Linked DNA regions of Homo sapiens. The protein of the gene in region 5 purifies or fractionates together with the protein of the main gene of each other region. This does not show direct contact. Each region holds a gene or a part of one and is shown on either strand. Other genes may lie near its edges. The genes, in order: P2RX4, MTCH1, IGSF3, PIGN, SPPL2B, OSBPL8 and GLG1.

Region 1 (3,500 bases), on a different chromosome or scaffold from region 5:
CTGACAGAGTCCTAACATACAAGGAAGTCAGTCACCTGCACCCTTCTCGTGAGTGACAGACTACTTGTGGCCCATCTTGCCACTGATGGTCGCTGCCTTGTGGTTGAGAGCAGCCATCCTAGGGCAGCCTGACTTCATACAGACACCAGAAACACACAAAAAGCCACAACACACAGGTGTAACTCCTTGACCACCTCTGTTCAAGGCTGACACGCAGAGTTGAAGGTGCTTCCGGCTGGGTGTGGTGGCTTCTGGCTGGGTGTGGTGGCTCCCGCCTGTAATCCTAGCACTTTGGGAGGCCAAGGCAGGTGGATCACTTGAGGTCAGGAGTTGGAGACCAGCGTGGCCAACATGGCAAAACCCCGTCTCTACTAAAAATACAAAAAATTAGTTGGGCGTGGTGGTGGGTGCCTATAATCTCAGCTACTCGGGAGGCTGAGGCACAGAAAATCACTTGAACACGGGAGGTGGAGGTTGTGGTGAGCCAAGATCGCACCACTGCACTCCAACCTGGGATACAGAGTGAAACTGTGTCTAAAACAAAACAAAACAAAAAGGCACTTCCTTCCCTAGGGCTGGACTCACTGTGGCACGTGTGTGTCATCCTCCACCGGGCACCAGGCCGCCACCTCACACGTCTTGACAGACCCGTTGAAAGCTACGCACCTGCCTGTTGAGACTCCTACAAGCACAAGGGTGGCAGGGGGGTCCCATGTCCACAGGGGTCTCCTATTTTCTACCTTTTTGGAGTAGGGAGTGAGAGCCCCATCCAGCCTCCCATGCAGCCAGTCTTGAGCTGTGCAAATCTGGGATTTAGACAGTGTCACTGTCCAGGAGTTAGAATCGGAGGAAGACAGTTACCTGTGTGCCAGCCACATCTCAGCCAGGGTGATGCCAAGCTAAAGAATGGGACAAGAGGCCAGGCACAGTGGGTCATGCCTGTAATCCTAGCACTTTGGGAGGCTGAGGCGGGTGGATCACCTGAGGTCAGGAGTTCGAGACCAGCCTGGCCAACATGGTAAAACCCATCTCTACCAAAAGTACAAAAATTAGCTGGGCGTGGTGGTGCATGCCTGTAATCCCAGCTACTCGGGAGGCTGAGGCAGGAGAATTGTTTGAAACTGGGAGGTGGAGGTTGCAGTGAGCCGAGATCATGCCATTGCACTCCAGTTTGGGTGACAGAGCGAGACTCTGGCTCAAAAAAACAAAAAAACAAAACAAAAAAAAAAACAAGAAAAAACAACAACAACAACAAAAAAAAAAACAGTAGGGCAAGAGCTGGGATGGCTTGTGGGGCTCCAATGACAGCAGTGAATGTAGAGGGGCTCCAGGACCCCAGCCTCGGCACCTGGCTCACCCAGGGTCATGTGAAGGAATTGGGAAGATTTCTCTATCAGAGACGCTCCACAGTGGGGGCGATCTGCTCAGGGGCCGCCCTCCCCAGGAGGCCACAAGCTCGTACCGTTGCTGTGGGTGCCGGCAGAGCCGGCAGTACAGCTGGCATCTGATTTACACACAGTGGTCGCATCTGGAATCTGGAAAAAGAAGGAGCGAAAAGAAAGTCCACGTGGCCCGGCCCCACACACAGGTGGACAGGCGTGGAGAGGGGTGTGGGGCCTGGGGCTCTTCCCGGGGGCCTCCTACCTCGGGGCACAGGCCCTGTGTCTGGTTCATGGTGAGGATCACGTTGGTCATGACGAAGAGGGAGTTTTCCTCCTGCAGAGGGGAGACAGCACGGGCAAGCCACGCTCAGAGGACTCACGGAGAGCCAAGAAAGGCAGACGCTGACTGAAGAGGACAACTCAAACACTGACCGCGTGCTCTCCCGCTCTCTCCCATCAAAGTTTATAACCCAATGGAAAACAGTGACTCAAACAAGTCCTTGTACATAAATATTCAGAGCAACACTTTTCACAAGAGCCAAAAGGTGGAAACAGGTCGGGCGCGGTGGCTCAAGCCTGTAATCCCAGCACTTTGGGAGGCTGAGGCGGGCGGATCACGAGGTCAGGAGTTCAAGACCAGCCTGGTCAACACAGTGAAACCCCCGTCTCTACTAAAAATACAAAAATTAGCCGGGTGTGATGGCGGGCACCTGTAGTCCCAGCTACTTGGGAGGCTGAGGCAGGAGAATTGCTTGAACCCGGGAGTCGGAGGTTGCAGCGAGCCGACATCGCGCCACTGCACTCCAGCCTGGATGACACGAGACTCTGTCTCAAAAAAAAAAAAAAAATGGTGGAAACAGCCCAAATGTCTGTCCTAGTCTAGTCACATGATGGAATGTGATTCAGCCATGAATAAAAAGGAATGAAGGGTCCAGGCATGGTGGCTCACACCTGTAATTCCAGCACTTTGGGAGGCTGAGGCAGGAGGATCACCTGAGGTCAAGAATTCCAGATTAGCCTGGCCAACATGGTGAAACTTTGTACTAAAAACACACACACACACACACACACACACACACAAACACACACAGACACACGCACACACAAAAGGAGCCGGGTGTGGTGGCGGGCACCTGTAATCCCAGCTACTCAGGGGGCTGAGCCAGGAGAATCACTGGAACCTGGGAGGTGGAGGTTGCAGTGAGCCGAGATCACGCCAGTGCACTCCAGCCTGGGTGACAGAGTGAGATTTCATCTCAAAAAATAAAATAAAGGAATAAAGCACTGATACAGGCTACAACATGGATGAACCCCAAAAACATGATGCTGAGTGAAAGAAGCCAGACACAAAGGCCACACAGGATACCATTACATTGATGTGAAATTTCCAGAACAGTCAAGTCCATAGAGACAAAGCACTTACGGGTTGCCAGGGAGTGAGAGAAGTGGGGAATGGGGAGTGGTTGTGTAACATACGAGGCTTCCCTTTGGGGTGATGGAAATGTTTTGAACTAGATAGAGGTGATGCTTGCATAACACTGTGAATGCACTAAATGTGCTGAATTTTTCATTTTAAAATGGTTAATTTCTTTCTTATTTATTTATTTATTTGAGACAGAGCCTTGCTCTGTCGCCCAGGCTGCAGGGCAGTGGCACGATCTTGGCTTACTGCAATCTCCGCCTCCTGGGTTCAAGCGATTCTCCAGCCTCACCCTCCTGAGTAGCTGGGACTACAGGTGTACATCACCACACCTGGCTAATTTTTGTATCTTTAGTAGAGATAGGATTTCACCATGTTGGCTAGGCTGGTCTCCAACTCCTGGCCTCAAGTGATCTACCTGCCTCAGCCTCCCAAAGTGCTGGGATTACAAGCATGAGCCACTGTGCCCGACTTAAAATGGTTAGTTTCTATAAGTGAATTTGACTGCAGTTAAAAAAAGGGGGGGGTCTGCAAACTGAAACAATGGTTTCTCAATCAAACTTGACTTACTGAGGGAAAGAGCCAACAAGTGCTAAAAACATTCCCTGCCAACCAGATTATCTCAGAGGAATAAAAACATGAGGCCTCATGGGGCTCAAATCTGGCTGGTTTTCTTTCCTAACTGAAATTATAAATCA
Region 2 (3,500 bases), on a different chromosome or scaffold from region 5:
GACACCCCAGGGGGGCTGGGAAACGACCAGAATCCAGGTTCCCAGGTTGGTTGGAACAAGGACTTGTCCTTCTTTCCGTGTGCTGCTGATGCCCAGGGTCTGGGACAAACTCAAGGATTCTGGGATTCTCAGCATCAGGCCGGGAGGGTGAGAGAGGACCTCTCATTATCCCTGGAGTCATCTTTGTCTAAGGGGAGAACGGCCTCAAGAGGCGAGATTCCAGATTAGTACCCAGACCTGGGAGGAATTAATGGAATGCTTGTCCCTGGGCGCCTTAGAAACAGACCCCAGCTTATCTAAGGCTGCTCCGAGGCAGTGACCCAACTAGGGCTCAGGAAGTCAGAAGATAGACCAGCTAATAGTGATCACCTCTTGACCTTTGTGTCACGTCTTTTGCTTTTTAAAACCCTTTTGTGAACGTTATGGCCTTTGATCTGACGGCATCCTAGTTGTGAAGGGAACAGGGCAGGTATAATGTTCGTTTACCAATACAGAAATCGAGACCCAGAGATCACAAATTCTGGAGAGGCTCTGGGCTCTCCAGAGTCACTCAGCTGGAACTGACAGGGCTGGAATTAGATCCCTGGCCAGGCCAAGGGTGCATTCCTCTGAGTTTTTTCAGATCTGCTAGGAAGTGTACAGTCCGATACACCCTCCTATTTTGTTAGCTGTGGTCTACACAGCCTAGTATACATAGACCTTTCAGCAGGTCGGGTCAGGCATAGGAAGGCCTGGTCCTTCTACACAGCACTTGTTGAGGAAGGCCATCCAGGTACCTGAGGGGTTGACTGGTTCTGCCTGAACCAAGATAAGAGGTAGGGAGCAGCGATGGCTGGGAATTGCAGTGTCCAGACATTCTCACAGTGGGGATCACCTTCAAGAAGGATGGCATTCCTTCTTGAAGTGGCTTTCCCTCCCAGGAGGCTAGGAGGGCCTGGGGACGTGTCTGCCAGAATCACCTGGGTGGGAAGGGGGTCATGTTCAGCATGTGTGTGTGTGTGGTACATGTCTGTTCTGTGTGGTGAGGAGTGCCCCATCCCAGATGGGAGCCTCTGCTTGCAGGGAGACTGGCCACTTGACCTGGGCAGGTGAGTCTTCACTGGCCTTTCGATGTAAGCAAATTAAAGTGGCTCCATAGAGACCCACCCCATCTGCAATCACAGTGGTACATTCCTGCAGTTCTGCCCCTTCTCGGGGGGCCTTGTGGGTGGGTAAGCTGCTGCTGTCACATACAGAGCAAGGGTGGCCAGGAGTGCACCGCTAAGTGGTTTCTCATCTAGGTGGGCAGCTGTCTGACCAGAGGCTGCCGTGCTTACATCAGCAACAACAGCAGTCAACAGATTTGTCTAAAGTGTTTTTCGAGTGCTTTTCTGTATGTGGCTTAAAGGCCGAGGTGAGGCTGCCGGGCTGTCAAAGCCACTCAAGCAGACATCTGAGCAAATCTCTGACCAAGAACCCAGGCCATCGATCTGGTGGGATGGCCGCTCCACAGGAAGCTGAGGGTGGGGGAGTCACCTTTCCTCACTAGGAGCTGTTTGCTTCAGCAAAGCAGGATTTGAGGAGTTGGGGTCTGAAGGGGGAAAAGCTTGCTGAGGTGGAGGTGGCGATAAGCCTGGACTTGCCCTCACCTCACCCCACAGGCCAGGATTCGTCTTTGGGTTTCAGGGTGCATGTCTGTCTTAGCACTGACTGCGTGCCAAGCCCTGGATGTTGATCAGGCAGACACGGGCTCAGCCCTTGAGGCTCACAGTCCGGTGGGTTGCACAGGCAGCGGCAGCTGATCCCTCTTACCGGGTCTCCTTCTCGGGACTCCCTTCAGTCCACTTACCCCGTTTCTGCCCCCCAGGCCTTCTCTGGGCAGTGACTGTGAGGGCTGACAGGAAAGGCATGTGCAGCGTGCTTGTGAGGAGCTCAGCACAGAGGGTGGGGTGAGGGCATGTGTTGCTGAAGTCTGCATCCTGAGGTGCCTGTGGCAAACCACTCTTCCCTTCTGTCTCCTCAGTTCAGCCAGGCCCTGGCCATCCGGAGCTATACCAAGTTCGTGATGGGGGTAAGTTGTGCCAGCTGTCCTTCCTTCCCACTGCCTTGCGGACCCAAGCGGGGCCTAGGAGGCCAACCCTGGTAATGGCTGGAGGCAGGTCTTGGTACAGGGTGTTGGCGTGGTGTGTCCCTGCTCCCTGGGCCGGGGTGGGTCACTGGCACTCAGGCCTCTCTGGGTTTCAGATTGCAGTGAGCATGCTGACCTACCCCTTCCTGCTAGTTGGCGACCTCATGGCTGTGAACAACTGCGGGTAGGTGTGCGCCCCTCTACTTGCCACTCTACCTACCAAGGCTGTGGGGTGGGGGAGACCCACCGAGCCCTTCCAGCACTCTGCCCCCTCCCACCTGCTCTGTGTGTAGGCTTGGCCTGCCAGGCACCCTGGCTTCCGCTGGGATTTCCCAGCACCCCCTGGGGTAAACTGTGGTGTCAGGGGTCAGGGTGTGGATGGGTGGTAGCCTGAAGGCATTCCTTCTTGAAGTGGCTTTCCCGTGGCTGGCTGTCTTCCACTGTTCTCTGCATCTACACTCTCCTTCTCCGGCAGGCTGCAAGCTGGGCTCCCCCCTTACTCCCCAGTGTTCAAATCCTGGATTCACTGCTGGAAGTACCTGAGTGTGCAGGTGAGCAAGCACTGGACGGCGGAGGCCTTTCCTGTTCTTTGCTACATCCTTCAGCTGAAATGGTTTTGTGGATGCTTCATTGCATGCAAAGATAAGTGGTTTCATGGAATTCAATATTGTGAGGAGATACTTGGTATCTATAAGGCATTTAAGTTTTCATCTTACATAATTTCAGAAAGGATTTGAGGTGGCTAAGTGTGGGTTTATTTTAAGATTATACATCAGACAAGACCTTTTCTTCTTTGAGTCTTAAAGACTCTTAGGATAAGGATAAGAGAACTCTGGCCCAGGTGGCAGGTGGTAAAGCCCAAGAACTGCTTCTCCTTCAAGTAACATGGGCTGAAAATTCGAGGTCTGTAACCAGTTGAGCTGAGTTCCTGGGTTGTTAGGGCGGCTGGCATTGGAAACCGACTCCTCCCTCCTGCAGGACATTCCTGGGCCCAGGAGAGCCTGTGGGTGGGGCTGGGCCACGTGGGGAACTGGCAGCAGTACCAACCTTGGGTTCTCGTGTTCTGTACCGAAGCTACCTCTCCGTAGCTGGAGCTCTTGGGCCCAGCAGTCAGGGGTCCAGGCTTTGGCCGAGGGCAGAACCTTGCCTTTTCCTGGCCTTGATTTGCCTCGCAGTGAAATGGGGCAGTGGCCCGGAGGGAGCCAGAACTCTGAGTGGCCTCGAGGCTGAGAAGAGGACAGATGGGAGGGAAGCAGGGAGGAGAGCCGCAGTTCTTCCCAGTGGCCCTGGTCAGCGTGAGTGTGTCTCGTCCTCCCTATGAGCACTGAAAGAGTCCTAGACCACTTGGGCTCTGAAGCAAGAGGGGCAATGAGCCTCCTCTCTAGGGCTCTCC
Region 3 (4,184 bases), on a different chromosome or scaffold from region 5:
AGTCCCAGTGACTCAGGAGGCTGAGGCAGGAGAATCACTTGAACCCGGGAGGTGGAGGTTGCAGTGAGACAAGATTACACCACTGCATTCCAGCCTGGGTCACAGAGTGAGAACCTGTCTCTTAAAATAAAATGAAAAATAAAACGTATATCTGATAACCATAGTCCCTTACTCAACACCTTCAGTGGCTTCCCAATGGTCCCAACCCCTTAACACACCATACAATGCCCTCTAGGTTCTGGCACTCGATTTCTTCTCAGCTCATTTCTTGTCACTTCTCTCCTACAGTCAAGTTTGGGCCCAGCAGACTGTCCTGGTCCTCTAACTGGGCTCCTTTCTGGGCCTGCAGAGGTGCTGTTTCTTCAGTCTGCGATTCCTTACCTCCCCTCTGTCTCTTCCTCTGCTGCTGCCTTCTGTTCTTTGGCATTCAACCGAGTTTTCCTTTCCTCTGAGAAGCCTGGGACCTACCCCGACCAAAGCTCCCTCCTCCTTGCCCCTCCCCCAATAACACAGGGTTGGGGTCTCTGCATTTGCTTCCTCAACACTGTACTTTTCTTGTCATGTCTATTTTATGGTCTGTGTCCCCACTAGACTGCAAGTTGCATGAGGGCAGGGCGGTCTATTCTGCTTTGGTCGCCTCGTGACGGTGTCTACCCAGCAAGTTGTGTGTGTTGGGTAAGTAGTGAGAAAACGAAAAAGCACTTGCTTTACAGGGCGGTTGGTCATAAAATAATAATAGCTTATATTTACTGACCACTTGTGATGTATCAGGCACCATTCTAAATGCTTTACAAGTATGTCACAGATTTCTCCCATAACCCTCTTAAGTAAGGGTTATTTCCTCCACATAGCAGATGGGGAAATTGAGGCACAGAGAGGTTAAGTAACTTGCCAAGGGCCACAGCGAGGAAGTGGAGGAACCGGCGTTAGAACCCAGGCTGTTTCCAGAGTCCAAATTCTATCCAAGAGTGAAGTGCAATATGGGGTTCCACTTCGTGAACAGATTCAAGTCTCCAAAGGGCTTTGTTTTTGTTTCCAGGAGGAAGGACGAGCTTCTGTGCCGCCGGCTTCCCAGGTTATGGGTGGCCAGCTGGGCTTTGGGAAGGGCCTGTACATCTCGCCGGCGGCCCCGGAGTCTGGGTGTGAAGCCCTGATTAACTTGCCGGGCTGCTCGGCCCACACGCCAGCCCTGCCCAGGTCCTCCGGTGCCCCGGGCCACCCTCATGCCCCCGCCAGGCCCGGGGCCGGGACTCGCGTCTCCAGGGGCGGGGCCGGGGGCGGGGCCGGGCCTCTCTTCGAGGCCGCCGCCCTGGCCCCGCGCTCGCCTCGCCGAGTGCGGCGGGCCGGGCTGGAGCTGGAGGGGCGGGGACTCGGGAGGGGCCGCAGCGCGGCTGCTGGTGCCGTTGCGGGAGAAGAGGAAGCGGCGCGTCCCCTGAGGCGTGCGCCTGGATGGACTGAAGGACGGTCCGACGCGCGCGGAGGGAGAGGGCCAGGGGCGAGGTCAGGCTCGGCGGGGGCGCGGGCGGCGCCCGGAGGGGGCCCCGGGGAGGGAGGCGGGGAGGCGTGGAGCGGGGAGCGGGGAGCGGGGAGTGGGGAGCGGGCCCGCGCCGGCTGAGCTCCGGGTCGGGCCCGAGACCCCTCCCCTGGCTGGGCGGGCGCGCTGCGAGCGCGCTCCGGCAGCTGAAAGCGGAGCTCCGGACTCCCTTCTTCCCCGGTTTCTTTTCTTTCCAATCAGCGAGATATAAACACCCTGCAAGGTAAAACAATAGCGGGGCCACCTGGGACGCGTCGCGCGCAGAGCTCCCACGGTTGGGGCGGGGGCCGGGAGTCGCGGCCCCACCGCGGAGCCCCTTCCCGATTTGCCCTGGCGGAGGGTGGGGCTACCTGCGGCGCCCGGGCTCGGTAGGAGGTGACGGGAATTCCCAGGAGTGAAGCATTTGGTGGAAGTATTTCAGGAACAATCGGGCTTCCCACTGTTGCCCTGCTCTGGGCAGGGAAACTGAGGCGGAGGGAAAGACAGAGACTTGCCCAAGGTCAGAATGCAGAGGTTGACTGTCCTGGTCCAGGAACCGGACCCAGGTGTCCGGACCAGCTCAGCGCTCAGCCCCAGTGGGTTTTGCAGCTTTGCCTTTGATAAAAATCTCTGTTGTGTTTGTTTTAGAAATCTGCTCGCGCTGGGGTACCGCTTCAGGGCTGCCGAACGCCAACTTGCTTCGTGTGCCCTAGGCAGGCGTGGGGCAGGTGGCGCCTCCGTGACCTACCACCATGGATGGAAACGGACTTTTTGGTGAAGAAACCCAAACGGTTGATGCCAGGCAGGGTGATTTGGCCGTCAAAGGTTTTGACGAAACCTGCCCTGTTCTCTCTGGGGAATCCGAATGAGGGAGATCACAGACACCTTCACTGAGAAGCCAAGGACATTTCTGTATAATCAGTGGATGAAAGGATTTTCTCAGACCCTTTTTTCCGTGCTTCTGGAGGATTAATCCACTACAGTCTGCAATTTCAGTGGAAACTGCAAGGCACACGATGTGGCAGGAGCCGGGAGCGACTTCCGAATTGTTGTGGACCCTTCCTGTAGCATAGGGGAGTTTTCACACTTGCCTCCACTCCTCCCCTTCCCCCCAACTCCCTCCTTCTGATCTCTTCTTTTTAATCTGTTCCCATTTTCCGAGTTAAGTTCTATTTCCAAAACTGTTCTCTGGAGCTATAAGTGGATTGCCAGAAATGAGAGATTAGGAGCTGGGAGAAGAGGAAGCGCCTTGTGTTGTGTCTCCTGGAGGCTGCCGACATGAAGTGCTTTTTCCCGGTGCTGAGCTGTCTGGCTGTGCTGGGTAAGTGGCTCTGCTTATCAGTGCAATCGATGTGAAAGTTTAACCTGCTCTTGGTTCCTGTAATTTCTCGTGGTTCTTTTTCATCAACACTAGGATTTGGGGGACACCAGGAGGCGGTCGGTGTGTGTCACAGGTTGGAGTAGAGTACGAAGAGGCCCGTTTCTAACCCAAGAGCAACGGTGGAATATCATTTGTTATCTATAAGAAGGAACATTTGCTGTTCTTAAAGTGTCTGTCTTGGCCCCTGGGGTGAGGTCCTGCATCTGCACATCTGTGGTTTAGGGACTTCACATGGCTGGTGGGCTGCTGTCTTGTAGCATGTCAAACATGGATGCTCTGGTGTTTTCACTTCTTTGTTGGGCTGCATTGATTCCTAATTGGGAGTGGGAACATCATTCCCCTCTGTCTCGAAAGTTGGTTTGGGTGATAATGATGGTGCCTTTTTTGAGGTGGAAATGGGAGTAAGTGGGATGGGGGTTGAAGGGATGCTTTGCCTACCTGAGTGGTCTGAAGGCTAAAAATGTGAGGGCACTAGTCCTGTGTCTCCTCACCAAGGAAGCTTAGATCGTAGTTCTGGGAGAAGGAGAGCCTGAAGAAAAGGAAGCTGCCTGGTAGGGGAGATTTTAGGATTGGCTTTTGTGCTCCCACAAATCAGAATGCCTAGAGTGGGAAGAAGAAACTATGGCCCTGAGAGGTGAACCTTTGACACCCCTCTTAAGGTGCAGATGCAGGACCTTCACCCCAGTGAAGAGGCCCCTCTGCTCAACAATTGCCTATTCTTTTTATGCCATTGAGCACTGTCTTCAGCGTGCTGTCTTAGAACACATCTCAGGTCTAGGATAAACTTCATTGCCAGGATTTGGTGCCATTCTCTTTCCCCATCTCAGACCTCATACATGAGCACACCCCCTGCCCTCTCTGTAAGGCTCGGTCCTCTGCATTCAGAAGGGATTATGATTGTTGCCTACAGGGTTCACGTCTCCAAATCTAGGTGTCTTGCACGTAGGGAACTTAGGGTGATCTGTTGGCAGTGGAGATTGCTTCCATGCATTGTCTACACCCTTGCAGTAGGTAACAGGTGTGTGGGAAGAGAATGGACTTTAGAATTAGAGGACCTGAGTTCCTATCCCAGCTTCACCATGATTGACATCTGAATGTCAATAAAACAGAAACAATAAAACAAGGGAAGGTGTGATAACTAAAGGATATAAGGTGTCCTAAATGCCTTGACTGCCTTAAATAATGTCTGAAACTCATAATAGATTTGTGCAATCAGTGGTTCTCAAACTCTCGTGTGCATGTTGGAATCACTGGGGAAGCTTTTAAAAATTCTGATTTCAGGCAACAACC
Region 4 (3,500 bases), on a different chromosome or scaffold from region 5:
AAATGGTGCCCTATTGTTGAGCTCTTTCTCACCTCCTTAACATCTGAATAACATAGCACAGCCAGAATTATGCTGAGGATGAAATCCAGAACCCAAATAGAACTAAGAGAAAAGGAATTGGTTGAAGAGAAAAAAGAAAGAGCAAAAAGCAGAGCTGGACACCTAAGAAGAATGCAAAGCAGGAATCCCCAGAAAAATGCTTGATGGTTGGTTGTGATGCTTCAAATACACTCTTTGAGAATCCTAAGGAGAAAGGTAATCATATATTCAACATGGATTATCATTAAAATTTAGGAAAAAATAGTCACATATGATCAAGATTCTTTGCTTTTTTTCTCTTTCTTAATTTTTAAAATAATTTGGTATCTAAACTTATTGGCAAATATGTTTTTACTTTAGAACACTGGAGTAACAGACATCACAACCATGTTGTACACGTTTGCTTTTTCCTTTAATTGTATCCTTAAATGTTTCACAAAATCACATCTTTGTGATTTTCTGAAGAAGGGAGATGCTGTGACAGATGAAAAGGAGAGTAGAAATTTCCCCATGAACCAGGAATCAAAATAAATAAGTTGCAAATATAGCTAGTAGGATAAACTTAAAGTCACTGAGCAATTTAAATTTAGAGGGAAACAATATAATTTTCTAAAATATAAATTAGATTTCTCATATTTTAACAAGTTTATTTGCTTCCCACATTCATCTTTAGTAGAATACGCAAGTGGCAAATTTATACAATTTCCTTCCCTTTTAGCATATGATAAATTCTGCTCAACTATGGCAATACTGCTTGAGCAGGACTGATAGGCAGAGACTGACAAAGGGAAGGAAAGGGGCTTTATAGAAACAATACAAGAGCTTACAGAGCTATCTGAAGCAAGAAATAAATGAAAATATTGGAATTCATTTTGTCATATACTATTTATAGGTTATGACAGTTGCAAAATGTTTTTACCTAGTAACACTCTAATAAAGTATGGCTTAGATAGTATGGTGTTAGAATTCAATACAATTATTTTGAGCTCTGCTAATAAAGTGACTTCCTGGGATATTTCCTGGTCTATTGCATATTGGTATTCTCATACAAATAGGAGAAAATGTATAGAATCTCATAAATCAGCACATATTTTTACAAAATAGTATTTAGTTAATCTTCCTTGATTTAAAAATATATACCATTATCCATTACAGACTTGGTTAGAATGTTTTAAAAAATGCTTATAGCATTCTGAAGAAAGTAACAAAGATGATTTAATTTCTAATTCCCATGATTAGACAATAAGAGAGGAAATGTTAAATGAAATAATGATCATATGCACACTCAAACAGCCCATAATTTACTTGACAATAAAGTGCAGTTAAAAGCAAAGGTAACCAGTTATTTTATAAATTTATTTAGGTCTATTGAAGAGAAATAAATATAGCAGCACAGTAAGGAATTTAGGTAAGATATGCAGAAGAATTTTCAAACAATTTGAGTGGTTAAACATGGGAAAGCTGGCAAGGTGAATAGAGTTTCCTCCCATGGAGATCTTTACATTCAATTTAGAATAGCAGAAAATTTAATTTTTACATGACATTTTAGTGTGGACATGATTAAAGCAAAGAGGGCTAACACAGTAGCTTTGAGACATTTTTGTTTTGGCAACAGAATGTTTTTTCACATGAAACTAAAACTTTTACTGATTCCTCCAAGCATAAAAGAAAGAAAACCTTCTAGACTTAAACAAAAAAAAATGGGCGGGATTTTAAGTTATCAGTGGCACAATTTCATTATGAAAGCCCGAAAGCACCTACTAGGAGGTTTAATGACTCTTAGAACCTAGGCCAAAATCATGACTAATGGTTTGATATTGGTATTTTAAATTCCCGTTAGTTCACATGATTTTATATTCTTGACCAAGATTAGGTTCAAATTTTACAGTGTTAATTGAGGAAAAAAAAGTGTATTGAAAATAGAATAAAATACAATATTATTCATACACTAGAGAGATGTCTGGCTTTCGACCTACAACCGGCATCAGTGGGAACACTGCCAGGAGCAAAGAGAAGAAAGTCCAACTCAGTGAGGTCATCTAAAATCAAGAAAAAAGTTATCTTTAGACAAATATGGTATAGAAAACTATCATTAGTGTTTCACAGACTATATGACTGTGAAGGTAAAAGGAAAATGCAAAGCCTTACAGCTGTTTATTATTTTATTTTTCAAATACTTTCTAGCAGAATCAACAGCTAACTACTTTAAAAAGTAATAGTTACTATTTGTGAAGGACCTGTTGCATAGCAGGTATAGTATTAGGTATAATATGAGCACTTTCTCATTTAATTCTCACAATAACCTCAAGAGGCAGGTATTATCATTCCCAATACATCAGATGATGAAACAGAGCTCAGAGAAGTTAAAATATAAGTAGTACCAGGTCCATGACAAGTAAATAAAATAACCAGTATTTAAACCTGCATAAAGTGCTTCATTCAATTTAGGTTAGACCATATATTGATGAAGACATCTATAAAAAAGGTGGCCTACAATAATCACCAAACAACTGAGCCCAGAAGGAAAATAAGTAAAACTACTTTTGTAATTAGATTAAGATCCCTCACAAATTAAAAGATCGATAATCCCATTCATTGAAGATTTTTTAATAAATTCTCAGAGTAGAAAGAAGATATCTTCCTGCTACTTCTATCAAAAAGTATCAAAGTGGAAATATAAGTGCATTCTTTGTAGAAGCACATTGTAATTCCCTATGTAGCTGAAGGAAGAAAATCAAGACTGACTATATTTTTAATAATCTATAATAAATACATACTTATCCAGAAAAAAAAAAAACTGAGTGGCTCAGGGTAACGAGGGAGGTGTTTCCTGTGACTCACAGAGTGCAGACCCCTAAGCCACTGGGCTGTGCTGCTCTGGACGACTCCTTGCCTGGTCCATTATCAAGATATTTGAAGCTAAACAAATCCAGGAAATGCTTCAGAGATGGACATATCAGTACAACTTATATAGCATTTCAATTACCACATAACTGGCCCATTTTGATGTGAAAGTCTAAGTGAATTACTGAAACCTTACAGGTAATGTCAGTCCTCCTATCAATATGACTAGGCTCTTTTATGTAAGAACACATTCTACCCTTTTCTTTAAAAATAAACAGTTCCTTGAGTTACACATGTGTCAAAACAAAGTAGTTACTAATCTGTCCTATGTCAAAATGAGTACTCATACCTTTGCTCGAGTCCACAGCCGAGTGAGAAATGGCCAAGCTGCAAAGGCAGTAAGTCCAGCGGTAAGCATATAGCGGTAGAAAAAACTGAGAACCTAGTAATGCATTCCAAAGAAGGAATGAAAAATAAGGTCATTTAATACTAGTTACAAATATATAAAAGAAATTTGCAAATGTTGTAATCTGGTAAGTTACTTACTAATACTTCAATTCCCAGGGTAAAGGCTAACAGGTACCCAACAAAATGGCTCAGAGGATAGGTCAACACTG
Region 5 (3,500 bases):
CCCCTCTTTCTCATTCTTCCTGGGCCTGTGCCTCCGTCCCCGTCTTTCTCATTCTCCCTGGGCCTGTGCCTCCGTCCCCCTCTTTCTCATTCTCCCTGGGCCCGTGCCTCCATCCCCGTCTTTCTCATTCTCCCTGGGTCCGTGCCTCCGTCCCTGTCTTTCTCATTCTCCCTGGGCCTGTGCCTCCGTCCCCGTCTTTCTCATTCTCCTTTGGCCTGTGTCCACATCCTGGTCTTTCTCATTCTCCCTGGGCCTGTGCCTCCGTCCCCGTCTTTCTCATTTTCCCTGGCTTCCATTGTTCTGTTCTTTTCTTTTCCTTTTCTTTCCTGTTTTCCTCTTTTTGTCTTTTTCTTCTTTGCCTTGTCTTCTACTGTTTCTTTTGTTATGAACGTATTTACGCAAAGTGCTGTTATCTGTTGACCCACATTGTTTTGAAAAATGTCCCCCACCGCAGCTGGCCCTAAGGAAAGAAGCTGTGGTGCTTTCTGGTTCCTGGGCACAGGGCCAGGCCAGGCCTCCTCTGCCGAGCCACGCCCCCGACCCTGCCCTCCACGTGGCTCCCTAAACGGCCACTCCCAGGGCCAGGAGAGTTCAGGCCGGCCTGTCCCCTCACACCTGCCTCCTGCAGCTGCAGGTGCCCCTGGCTTTCCCCTCGCCCGATTTTACTGTCTTCATGATTATCCTTTAAAATCACGGCTGAGGCCGGGTACGGGGGCTCATGTCTGTGATCCCAGCTTTCTGGGAGGCTGAAGTGGGAGGATTGCTTGAGTCCAGGAGTTCAAGACCAGCCTGGGCAACATAGTAAGACCCTGTCTCTGCAGAAGAATGCAAAAATTAGCCGGGCATGGTGACATGTGCCTGTAGCCCCAGCTACTCTGCAGGCTGAGGTGGGAGGATCGCTTGAGCCTGGGAGTTCAAGGCTGCAGTGAGCCATGATCGTGCCACCGCACTCCAGCCTAGGCAACAGAGTGAGACCCTGTCTCGAAAAAATAATAATAAAATGAAAGAAAAAATAAAAACACAGCTGCAGAGATTTGTCTCTCCTGAAACATAACTTGTCAAGTTGTCCCTGTAATTCCTGAGACTGAAGCCGCTGAGGCTTTATAGGTGCCAGCCCTCCCTGTTTGTGTCTGTCTGCGTCTGTTGATGATGGCTGATGGACACGTGGATGGCCTAAAATGGACCAATAGGGACGCTCCCCGTGGCATGGCGTCAGAAATACAGAGATGGGTGTTAGAAAAAGTGCCGGGAGCAGTGTGCTTGCTGGACACAGCGGCTCTTTTTTTAAGAGTGTTCTAGCAAATAATTAATTTTCTCAGAGCTTTATTTTGAAATAATTTCAAATGACAGTTGCAGGATCGCTACAGAGAACTCCCGTGTGCCCCGTTCTCAGAGGGACTGGTCATTTCTTCACATTCGCTTGATTCCGTTCTCTCTCCCTCCACACACACTTACGCGCTCTCATTCACCTGATTCCGTTCTCTCTCCACACACACGCGCTCTCATTCGCCTGATTCCGTTCTCTCCCTCCACACACACACTCACGCGCTCTCATTCGCTTGATGCCGTTCTCTCTCCACACACACTCACGCACTCTCATTCGCCTGATTCCGTTCTCCTTCTCTCCACACACACTCACGCGCTCTCATTCGCCTGATTCCGTTCTCTCTCCACACACACACACTCTCATTCGCCTGATTCCGTTCTCTCTCTCCACACACGCGCTCTCATTCGCCTGATTCCGTTCTCTCTCTCCACACACACACACTCTCATTCGCCTGATTCCGTTCTCTCTCCACACACACTCACGCACTCTTATTCGCCTGATTCCGTTCTCTCCCTCCACACACACACTCACGCGCTCTCATTCGCTTGATGCCGTTCTCTCTCCACACACACTCACGCACTCTCATTCGCCTGATTCCGTTCTCTCCCTCCACACACACACTCACGCGCTCTCATTCGCTTGATGCCGTTCTCTCTCCACACACACTCACGCACTCTCATTCGCCTGATTCCGTTCTCCTTCTCTCCACACACACTCACGCGCTCTCATTCGCCTGATTCCGTTCTCTCTCCACACACACACACTCTCATTCGCCTGATTCCGTTCTCTCTCTCCACACACACGCGCTCTCATTCGCCTGATTCCGTTCTCTCTCCACACACACACACTCTCATTCGCCTGATTCCGTTCTCTCTCCACACACACTCACGCACTCTTATTCGCCTGATTCCGTTCTCTCCCTCCACACACACACTCGCGCTCTCATTCGCTTGATGCGGTTCTCTCTCCACACACACACTCACGCGCTCTCATTTGCCTGATTCCGTTCTCTCCCTCCACACACAGACTCACGCGCTCTCATTCGCTTGATTCCATTCTCTCCCTCCACACACACTCATGCGCTGTCATTCGCTTGATTCCGTTCTCTCTCCACACACACTCACGCTCTCATTCGCTTGATTCCGTTCTCTCTCCACACACACTCGCGCTCTCATTCGCTTGATTCCGTTCTCTCTCCACACACACACACTCTCATTCGCCTGATTCCGTTCTCTCTCCACACACACTCACGCACTCTTATTCGCCTGATTCCGTTCTCTCCCTCCACACACACACTCGCGCTCTCATTCGCTTGATGCGGTTCTCTCTCCACACACACACTCACGCGCTCTCATTTGCCTGATTCCGTTCTCTCCCTCCACACACAGACTCACGCGCTCTCATTCGCTTGATTCCATTCTCTCCCTCCACACACACTCATGCGCTGTCATTCGCTTGATTCCGTTCTCTCTCCACACACACTCACGCTCTCATTCGCTTGATTCCGTTCTCTCTCCCTCCACACACACTCACGTTCTCATTCGCGTGATTCCGTTCTCTCTCCACACAGACTCATGCACTCTCATTCGCCTGATTCCATTCTCTCTCTCCACACACACTCACACGCTGTCATTCGCTTGATTCCGTTCTCTCTCCACACACACTCACGCTCTCATTCGCTTGATTCCGTTCTCTCTCCACACACACTCACGCTCTCATTCGCTTGATTCCGTTCTCTCTCTCCACACACACTCACGCGCTCTCATTCGCTTGATTCCGTTCTCTCCCTCCACACACACTCGTGTTCTCATTCGCTTGATTCCATTCTCTCCCTCCACACACACTCACGCGCTGTCATTCGCTTGATTCCATTCTCTCTCTCCACACACACTCACGCGCTCTCATTCGCTTGATTCTGTTCTCTCTCTCCACACACACTCACGCGCTGTCATTCGCTTGATTCCGTTCTCTCTCCACACACACTCACGCTCTCATTCGCTTGATTCCGTTCTCTCTCTCTCCACACACACTCACGCGCTCTCATTCGCTTGATTCCGTTCTCTCCCTCCACACACACTCGCGTTCTCATTCGCTTGATTCCATTCTCTCCCTCCACACACACTCGCGTTCTCATTCGCTTGATTCCATTCTCTCCCTCCACACACACTCACGC
Region 6 (3,500 bases), on a different chromosome or scaffold from region 5:
TGTCAGGTACTTGAATATTTTACATGAAATCATTTATTTAATTCTCATACCTATAAGGAGGATACAGTTTCTTCCCATTGTACACATAAAGAGATTGAACCCTGTTTTTCTAGCATGGAGCCATGATTGAAACCCAGGCAGTCTGATTCCATGTCCCACTATATACTGGTTTTAGGAACTGGCCCATAAATTGTAAAGCTATTTGAAAATGCAGATTATTACGGTATTTGTTAAAGTCATATTAAATTTTTTTTCTGTTTTCGTTTTGAATCTACATCTTTACTTTCTAATGTTATGCTTTTTGGAAATTTATTTCATTTTTTGACCTAATAACTTTAAAGAACCCTTTGAAAACAACTTAAAAATTATGCTTTTGTATCAAAATTATACTTTAAATTCAGTACTTAGTTTTCTTTCCAGATTCGTGTCTACCTAAGTTTAGCATTGGTGATACTAATTAGTGTTGGTATTGTATACTTCTAAAACAAACAACCCTAGCCAACAACAACGACAGAATTTCTTTTTCTTTCATGTTTCTGGAAAAATAAAATCAGCTTATATAGTTGGTGTTTAAAAACAGGTGTATGTCATTGGTTATAAAGTGGAGATTTATTTTTCCCTAGACCCAGTTAAAGTTCATTTCTCTTTTTTTAAATTATAATTCTATTTCCACATGCTTTCTTTAGCCTTCTAGAAATTTAGTATTTCTTATCTCATTAGTTGTATCCATGGGATGGACATTGTTAAAATTTGGTTTAATATGGTAAACTTTAGGTTCTCTTTAGTATGTAAGCAGTATGTAGAGATAATATTTAAGTGATAATTCATTTGTTCAGTTTTCTGCTAAGGAGATATATTTGTTAGAAAATTTTTCTTAATACTTAACATTTGCATTCTCAAGAATGATGAAATTAAAGCTCATTTGCCTTTAGATTATAATCCATACCTGATTTAGATTATTACAGATAATATTGGATAGTGTAAAGATGAGATCTCATAATAATTACTCTATACCATTTATTTTGTTTATTTTGTTATTAAGGGTCCAAAAGGTGAAGCGGTTGGATCCATTACTCAACCCTTACCTAGCAGTTATTTGATCATCCGAGCTACTTCAGAGTCAGATGGTAAGTATAGTTTTTGATGGATTGGATTTTGGTCTTCATTTTTAAGAGTTTTTTTAATGCCACTTTGTATTATTCTGGGGAAATATATTTTTAGTATGGCATTTGCAGCAGAAGCATGGTAATCATAAATTGTTTTGAATGCTAAATATATGAGTAACTTAATAGACAAAAATCTGATAGAAAGGAAGCATTGTGTGATTTACTGAAGAGTTAGCAGTTCAGAGTTTTCTTCTTCATCCTCCATGGACATATTAACACCTTTTTATTTGTTAGTGGTCTTTATGGTACTCTTAAAGATATATTTAATACTTTTTATATTTTACTACTAAATGTTACCATTTATGAGACATATACATTGTTTTGGTTTTGTTTTTTTTTATGTAAGAGATTCGAGTACAACCTTTTTTATTCCTCCTTTAACACTTAATTCATGAAGCAAATATGGAGAGAGAAAAACTTAAATGATATCAAGGTAACTTTAAAATCTTAATAATTAATAATGGATTTTGTCCTCACTTTCATGCTTTCATGTTTCATAGTTTAGACAAGGTTGGTATAGGGAATCTTCTAACCTTCCAAAGTTTACTTTTATCTGATTTTTTTTGTTTTGTTTTGTTTTTGTTTTTGAGATGGAGTCTCGCTCTGTTGCCAGCCTGGAGTGCAGTGGCACGATCTCGGCTCACTGCAACCTCTGACTCCCTGGTATAAGTGATTCTCCTGCCTCAGCCTCCCGGGTAGCTGGGATTACAGGCACATGCCACCACGCCCAGCTAATTTTTGTATTTTTAGTAGAGACGGTTTCACCATGTTGGCCAGGATGGTCTCACACTCTTGCCCTCATGATTCGCTTGCCTCGGCCTCCCAAAGTGCTGGGGTTACAGGCGTGAGCCATCGCACCTGGCCTCAGATTTTTTTTTTTTTTTTTTTTTTTTTTGAAACGGAGTCTCACTCTGTCGCCCAGGCTGGAGTGCAGTGATGCGATCTCGGCTCACTGCAAGCTCCGTCTCCCGGGTTCACGCCATTCTCCTGCCTCAGTCTCCCGAGTGGCTGGGACTACAGGCGCCTGCCACCACACCCGGCTAATTTTTGTGTATTTTCAGTAGAGACAGGGTTTCACTGTGTTAGCCAGGATGGTCTCGATCTCCTGACCTCGTGATCCGCCTGCCTCGGCCTCCCAAAGTGCTGGGATTACGGGCGTGAGCCACCGCGCCTGGCCGATGATTTTTTTAAATTAAAATATAGGTATGAGCTTTCAATATGAAGATGCTTTACTTGGCTGATATTCCCAGCAAATCTTGAAGTGATATATATGAAAATTAAGAGCCCTAAACAAATATAAATGAAAAGTTTTCTGCTAATTCACTTTTAAATTTTTACTTAAAAAATAAAACTATTAATGTTTCTCTTAACTAATATGGCAGTTAATGGTAGCATTATGCAGGCATTTTCCTGACTTAAAAAGTTTCATACATACAAGTAGAATGGTTGTTAATCTTGAGGATAGACCTCCTATTAACAAAAACAGTTACTTCAGATAGTTTGTTTGTAGTAGAATCATAAATCCTCAAGTGTATTTTATGTACCTTGCTTGATACCTTCAAATTATACTGCATGTTAATGTTCTAAGATTTGAAAAATAAAGTATGTTTATTTTAGATTGGGTATAGTTTCTAATGCATGCTGTATACTATTCATTTATCAGTGGTGTGCTTAGTATGTGAAAAGCATTTGAAAAACGGAAAGATTTCATTAAATTCTAGCAAGATGTTATGTTCAGATTAACTTTTCCAGTGCATGTTTCTCAAAGAAATAGTGGTAACAGGGTAAGTTAAGATGCATGCTAGTTTCATAGTTTTAAAAATTATAGTGCTTATGAATCTGTGTTCTTTTAGGAAGGTGCTGGATGGATGCTTTGGAGTTGGCTTTGAAATGTTCTAGTCTTCTTAAACGTACAATGATCAGAGAAGGAAAGGAACATGACCTGAGCGTTTCATCAGATAGCACACATGTGACTTTCTATGGCTTACTACGTGCTAACAATCTCCACAGTGGTGATAACTTCCAGTAAGTAGATACTGCCGCTGAGTTGGTAATGTTTCAGAGACCATACTGTTCACAAAATTAGTTGGCAGGCCTAGAATTTTAGTAGTGTATCTAGGACTGAAATTTGCATATCTTCCCATTATATGGCCTAGGAACCGGCTTAAAATTTGTTTAGCTGCTATAATCAGGTGTAGAAATGTATTTCCTTGATTCCAGCCAACGTGATTTACTTTATCTTTCCCAAATATAGCCATGCTAATTATTCACCTTGTCTGTGCATGATGTCCCTTCTATTAAGAATGATTTCTGCCTACTCCTCCTTACGCTTTT
Region 7 (3,500 bases), on a different chromosome or scaffold from region 5:
TCTCAAACAAACAAAAAAAAAACCCAAAACAAAACTCACCAGGCACAGTGGCTCACGCCTGTAATCCCAGCACTTTGGGAGGCCGAGGCGGGAGGATCACCAGGTCAAGAGATCAAGACCAGCATGTCCAACATGGCGAAACCCCGTCTCTAGTAAAAATACAAAAATTACCTGGGCGTGGTGGGGTGCGCCTATAGTCCCAGCTACTCAGGAGGCTGAGGCAGGAGAATCGCTTGAACCAGGGAGGCTGAGGTTGCAGTGAGCTGACATCATGCCACTGCCCTCCAGCCTGGATGACAGAGTGAGACTCCATCTCAAAAAAAAAAAAAAAGAAAGAAAAAAGAAAAAAAAAGCTCCGGTGATAGATGGTGGTGCAAGCAGATCACCTGAGGTCAGGAGTTCAAGACCAGCATAGCCAACATGGCGAAATCCTGCCTCTACTAAAAAAACAAAAATTAGCCGGGCGCAGTGGCTCACGCCTGTAATCCCAACACTTTGGGAGGCCGAAGCTGGCGGATAACGAGGTCAGGAGATTGAGACCATCCTGACTAACACAGTGAAATCCCATCTCTACTAAAAAATACAAAAAATTAGCCGGGCATGGTGGCGGGCGCCTGTAGTCCCAGCTACTCGGGAGGCTGAAGCAGGAGAATGGCGTGAACCCGGGAGGTGGAGCTTGCAGTGAGCTGAGATCGCACCACTGCACTCCAGCCTGGGTGACAAAGTGAGACTGCCTCAAAAAAAAAAAAAAAAAAGCTGGACATGGTGGTGTGTACCTGTAGTCCTAGCTACTCATGAGGCTGAGGCAGGAGAATCGCTTGAACCCGGGAGCCAGAGATTACAGTGAGCTGAGATCACACCACTGCACTCCAGCCTGGGCGTCAAGAGCAAGACTCTGTCTCGAAAACAAAATCAAACAAACAAAATCAATAAGAATGATAATAATAAAACATCTCTCATAAGATTAAATGAGATAACGCCTAGAAAGCATCCAGTCCCTCAGAACAGGGCACACAGAAAACCCTCAGTAAATGCTAACCATTATAAGTAGCAGTAGTATACTTGAACACTGAGCAGTGTCTTGCACACAGGTTTCAATAAATGTTTGCTGAAAGAAGAAAAATTGGTCGGGCGCGGTGGCTCACGCCTGTAATCCCAGCACTTTGGGAGGCCAAGGCGGGCGGATCACGAGGTCAAGAGATCAAGACCATCCTGGCCAACATGGTGAAACCCCGTCTCTACTAAAAATACAAAAAATTAGCCGGGCGTGGTGGCGGGCGCCTGTAGTCCCAGCTACTCGGGAGGCTGAGGAAGGAGAATCACTTGAACCCAGGAGGTGGAGGTTGCAGTGAGCCGAGATCGCGCCACTGCACTCTAGCTTGGTGACAGAATGAGACTCCATCTCAAAAAAAAAAAGAAAAAAGAAAGAAGAAAAATTAATTTACATGATAGCCTATAAGCCATTTTAACTGCTGCTTTTAAAAATATATAAATAAGGCCGGGCGCGGTGGCTCACGTCTGTAATCCCAACACTTTGGGAGACTGAGGTGGGTGGATTGCCTGAGGTCAGGAGTTTGAGACCACCCTGGTCAACATGGTGAAACCTCGTCTCTACAAAAATTAGCCGGGTGTGCTGGCAAGTGCCTATAATCCCAGCTACTCGGGAGGCTGAGGCAGGAGAATGGCTTGAACCCGAGAGGTGGAGGTTGCAGTGAGTCGAGATCATTCCACTTCACTCCAGCCTGAGCAAGAGCGAAACTCCACCTCAAAACAACAACAACAAATATATAAATATATATATATATAACTTATATAAAGAGGAGATTTTTGTTATTGTTCCTGAGTAAATTTGTTTTGAACACATTAGGAGAAATGCACAAAAGAGAAATACAGCATTTCATCTTTTGGACTGTTCAAGTATTTTATTTCCTTCTACAGAACAATGAATTATTAAGCAACTATATACTGTAAAGCATTCTCATCAAGAGATTTCTTAAAAAGTATTTGCCATAAACGACAATGCTACTTTACAGGTAATTCTCAATTATCTGCTGTAATATTTTTATCTGAGGTAGGGATAAAAACATCCCATTTCTGGACTTTACTTGGAGAACCAGCTAGAGGTGAATATACGACCCTTCATGACCTGGACTGAAAACATTTTCAAGTTCTCTATTTCGGTCAATACAGCCCCTTTAATAATTCCCCAAAGCATCTCCCCTTTCCACCTGTGCTACGACTCTCTTGCACACGTTTTGTATTCCCACAGATCACAAAATCACAAAGCACCGGAGCTGGAAGAATCTTAAGAGATAATCCAAGGCCAGGAGCGGTGGCTCACGCCTGTAATCCCACCACTTTGGGAGGCCAAGGCGGGTGGGATTACCTGAGGTCAGGAGTTCAAGACCAGCCTGGCCAACATGGTGAAAACCCGTCTCTACTAAAAATACAAAAATTAGCCAAGCCTCGGCCGGACACAGTGGCTCACGCCTGTCATCTCAGCACTTTCGGAGGCCGAGGTGGGCAGATCACGAGGTCAGGAGATCGAGACCATCCTGGCCAACATGGTGAAACCCCGTCTCTACTAAAAATGCAAAAAATTAGCCGGGCATGGTGGTGGGCGCCTGTAGTCCCAGCTACTCGGGAGGCTGAGGCAGGAGAATGGCGTGAACCCGGGAGGTAGAGCTTGCAGTGAGCCGAGATCGCGCCACTGCACTCCAGCCTGGGTGACAGAGCTAGACTCTGTCTCAAAAAAAAAACAAAAAAAAAATTAGCCAGGCATGGTGGCTGGTGCCTGTAATCCCTGCTACTAGAGAGGTGGAGCCAGGAGAATCGCTTGAATACAGGAGACAAAGGTTGCAGTGAGGTGAGATCGCGCCACTGCACTCCAGCCTGGGTGACAGTGCGAGACTCCGTCTTAACCAAAAGCAAAACAAAACAAAAAAACAACAGAGAAAGATAATCCAGTGTTAGTGCTTTCTGAAGCATGTGCTATTGGTAATATGCAAGATGATTTCAGGTGGTATGTGTTGGTACTTATATTTTATAGTCATATATTTAGTTTCATATATATTAGAGAAGTATACCTACCACATCAAATTCATGAGTTCACGTATATTTCCGCTTAGAACAAGGCTAAGTGGTGTTGTGTACCTATAGTCCCAGCTACTCGGGAGGCTGAAGTGGGAGGAGAGCTTGAGCCCAGGAGTTTGAGGTTGCAGTGAGCCATGATCATGCCACTGCACTCCAGCCAGCCTGGGAGATAGAGTAAGACTTTCAAAGAAAAAAAAGAACAAGGACAAAGCTAAAGTAGACAGTCCTTGCTTAAGAAAAGAGGCCGGGTGCACTGGTTTACACCTGTAATCCTAGCACTTTGGGAGGCCAAGACAGGCAGATCACTTGAGGTCAGAGGTTCAAGACCAGCCTGGCCAGTGTGGCGAAACCCCCGTTTTACTAAAAATACAAAAATTAGCCGGGTGTGGTAGCGCATGTCTGCAGTC

Evidence for each region.
Region 1: the proteins of SPPL2B (region 5) and P2RX4 purify together in Homo sapiens (co-immunoprecipitation; 3 studies listed by BioGRID and IntAct, with this or other methods). This does not show direct contact.
Region 2: the proteins of SPPL2B (region 5) and MTCH1 purify together in Homo sapiens (co-immunoprecipitation; 3 studies listed by BioGRID and IntAct, with this or other methods). This does not show direct contact.
Region 3: the proteins of SPPL2B (region 5) and IGSF3 purify together in Homo sapiens (co-immunoprecipitation; 3 studies listed by BioGRID and IntAct, with this or other methods). This does not show direct contact.
Region 4: the proteins of SPPL2B (region 5) and PIGN purify together in Homo sapiens (co-immunoprecipitation; 3 studies listed by BioGRID and IntAct, with this or other methods). This does not show direct contact.
Region 6: the proteins of SPPL2B (region 5) and OSBPL8 purify together in Homo sapiens (co-immunoprecipitation; 3 studies listed by BioGRID and IntAct, with this or other methods). This does not show direct contact.
Region 7: the proteins of SPPL2B (region 5) and GLG1 purify together in Homo sapiens (co-immunoprecipitation; 3 studies listed by BioGRID and IntAct, with this or other methods). This does not show direct contact.

What each region holds. Positions count from the first base shown.
Region 1 is NC_000012.12:121,220,129-121,223,628, reverse strand, and holds part of P2RX4 (P2X purinoceptor 4), read right to left. Parts: intron 1,717-3,500; coding exon 1,645-1,716; intron 1,536-1,644; coding exon 1,463-1,535; intron 900-1,462; exon of another isoform or gene 862-899; intron 683-861; coding exon 586-682; intron 1-585. UniProt on the Homo sapiens protein: ATP-gated nonselective transmembrane cation channel permeable to potassium, sodium and calcium. CTP, but not GTP or UTP, functions as a weak affinity agonist for P2RX4.
Region 2 is NC_000006.12:36,969,197-36,972,696, reverse strand, and holds part of MTCH1 (mitochondrial carrier homolog 1), read left to right. Parts: coding exon 1-45; intron 46-2,002; coding exon 2,003-2,050; intron 2,051-2,223; coding exon 2,224-2,291; intron 2,292-2,582; coding exon 2,583-2,658; coding exon of another isoform or gene 2,659-2,844; exon of another isoform or gene 2,845-3,500.
Region 3 is NC_000001.11:116,664,934-116,669,117, reverse strand, and holds the start of IGSF3 (immunoglobulin superfamily member 3 isoform 2 precursor), read left to right. Parts: upstream 1-1,384; 5' UTR 1,385-1,500; intron 1,501-1,649; exon of another isoform or gene 1,650-1,757; intron 1,758-2,161; 5' UTR 2,162-2,791; coding exon 2,792-2,834; intron 2,835-4,184.
Region 4 is NC_000018.10:62,103,557-62,107,056, forward strand, and holds part of PIGN (GPI ethanolamine phosphate transferase 1), read right to left. Parts: coding exon 3,430-3,500; intron 3,326-3,429; coding exon 3,233-3,325; intron 2,079-3,232; coding exon 1,987-2,078; intron 1-1,986.
Region 5 is NC_000019.10:2,345,684-2,349,183, forward strand, and holds part of SPPL2B (signal peptide peptidase-like 2B isoform 2 precursor), read left to right. Parts: intron 1-3,500. UniProt on the Homo sapiens protein: Intramembrane-cleaving aspartic protease (I-CLiP) that cleaves type II membrane signal peptides in the hydrophobic plane of the membrane. Functions in ITM2B and TNF processing.
Region 6 is NC_000012.12:76,392,272-76,395,771, reverse strand, and holds part of OSBPL8 (oxysterol-binding protein-related protein 8), read left to right. Parts: intron 1-1,042; coding exon 1,043-1,127; intron 1,128-3,019; coding exon 3,020-3,191; intron 3,192-3,500. UniProt on the Homo sapiens protein: Lipid transporter involved in lipid countertransport between the endoplasmic reticulum and the plasma membrane: specifically exchanges phosphatidylserine with phosphatidylinositol 4-phosphate (PI4P), delivering phosphatidylserine to the plasma membrane in exchange for PI4P, which is degraded by the SAC1/SACM1L phosphatase in the endoplasmic reticulum.
Region 7 is NC_000016.10:74,597,115-74,600,614, forward strand, and holds part of GLG1 (Golgi apparatus protein 1 isoform 3 precursor), read right to left. Parts: intron 1-3,500. UniProt on the Homo sapiens protein: Binds fibroblast growth factor and E-selectin (cell-adhesion lectin on endothelial cells mediating the binding of neutrophils).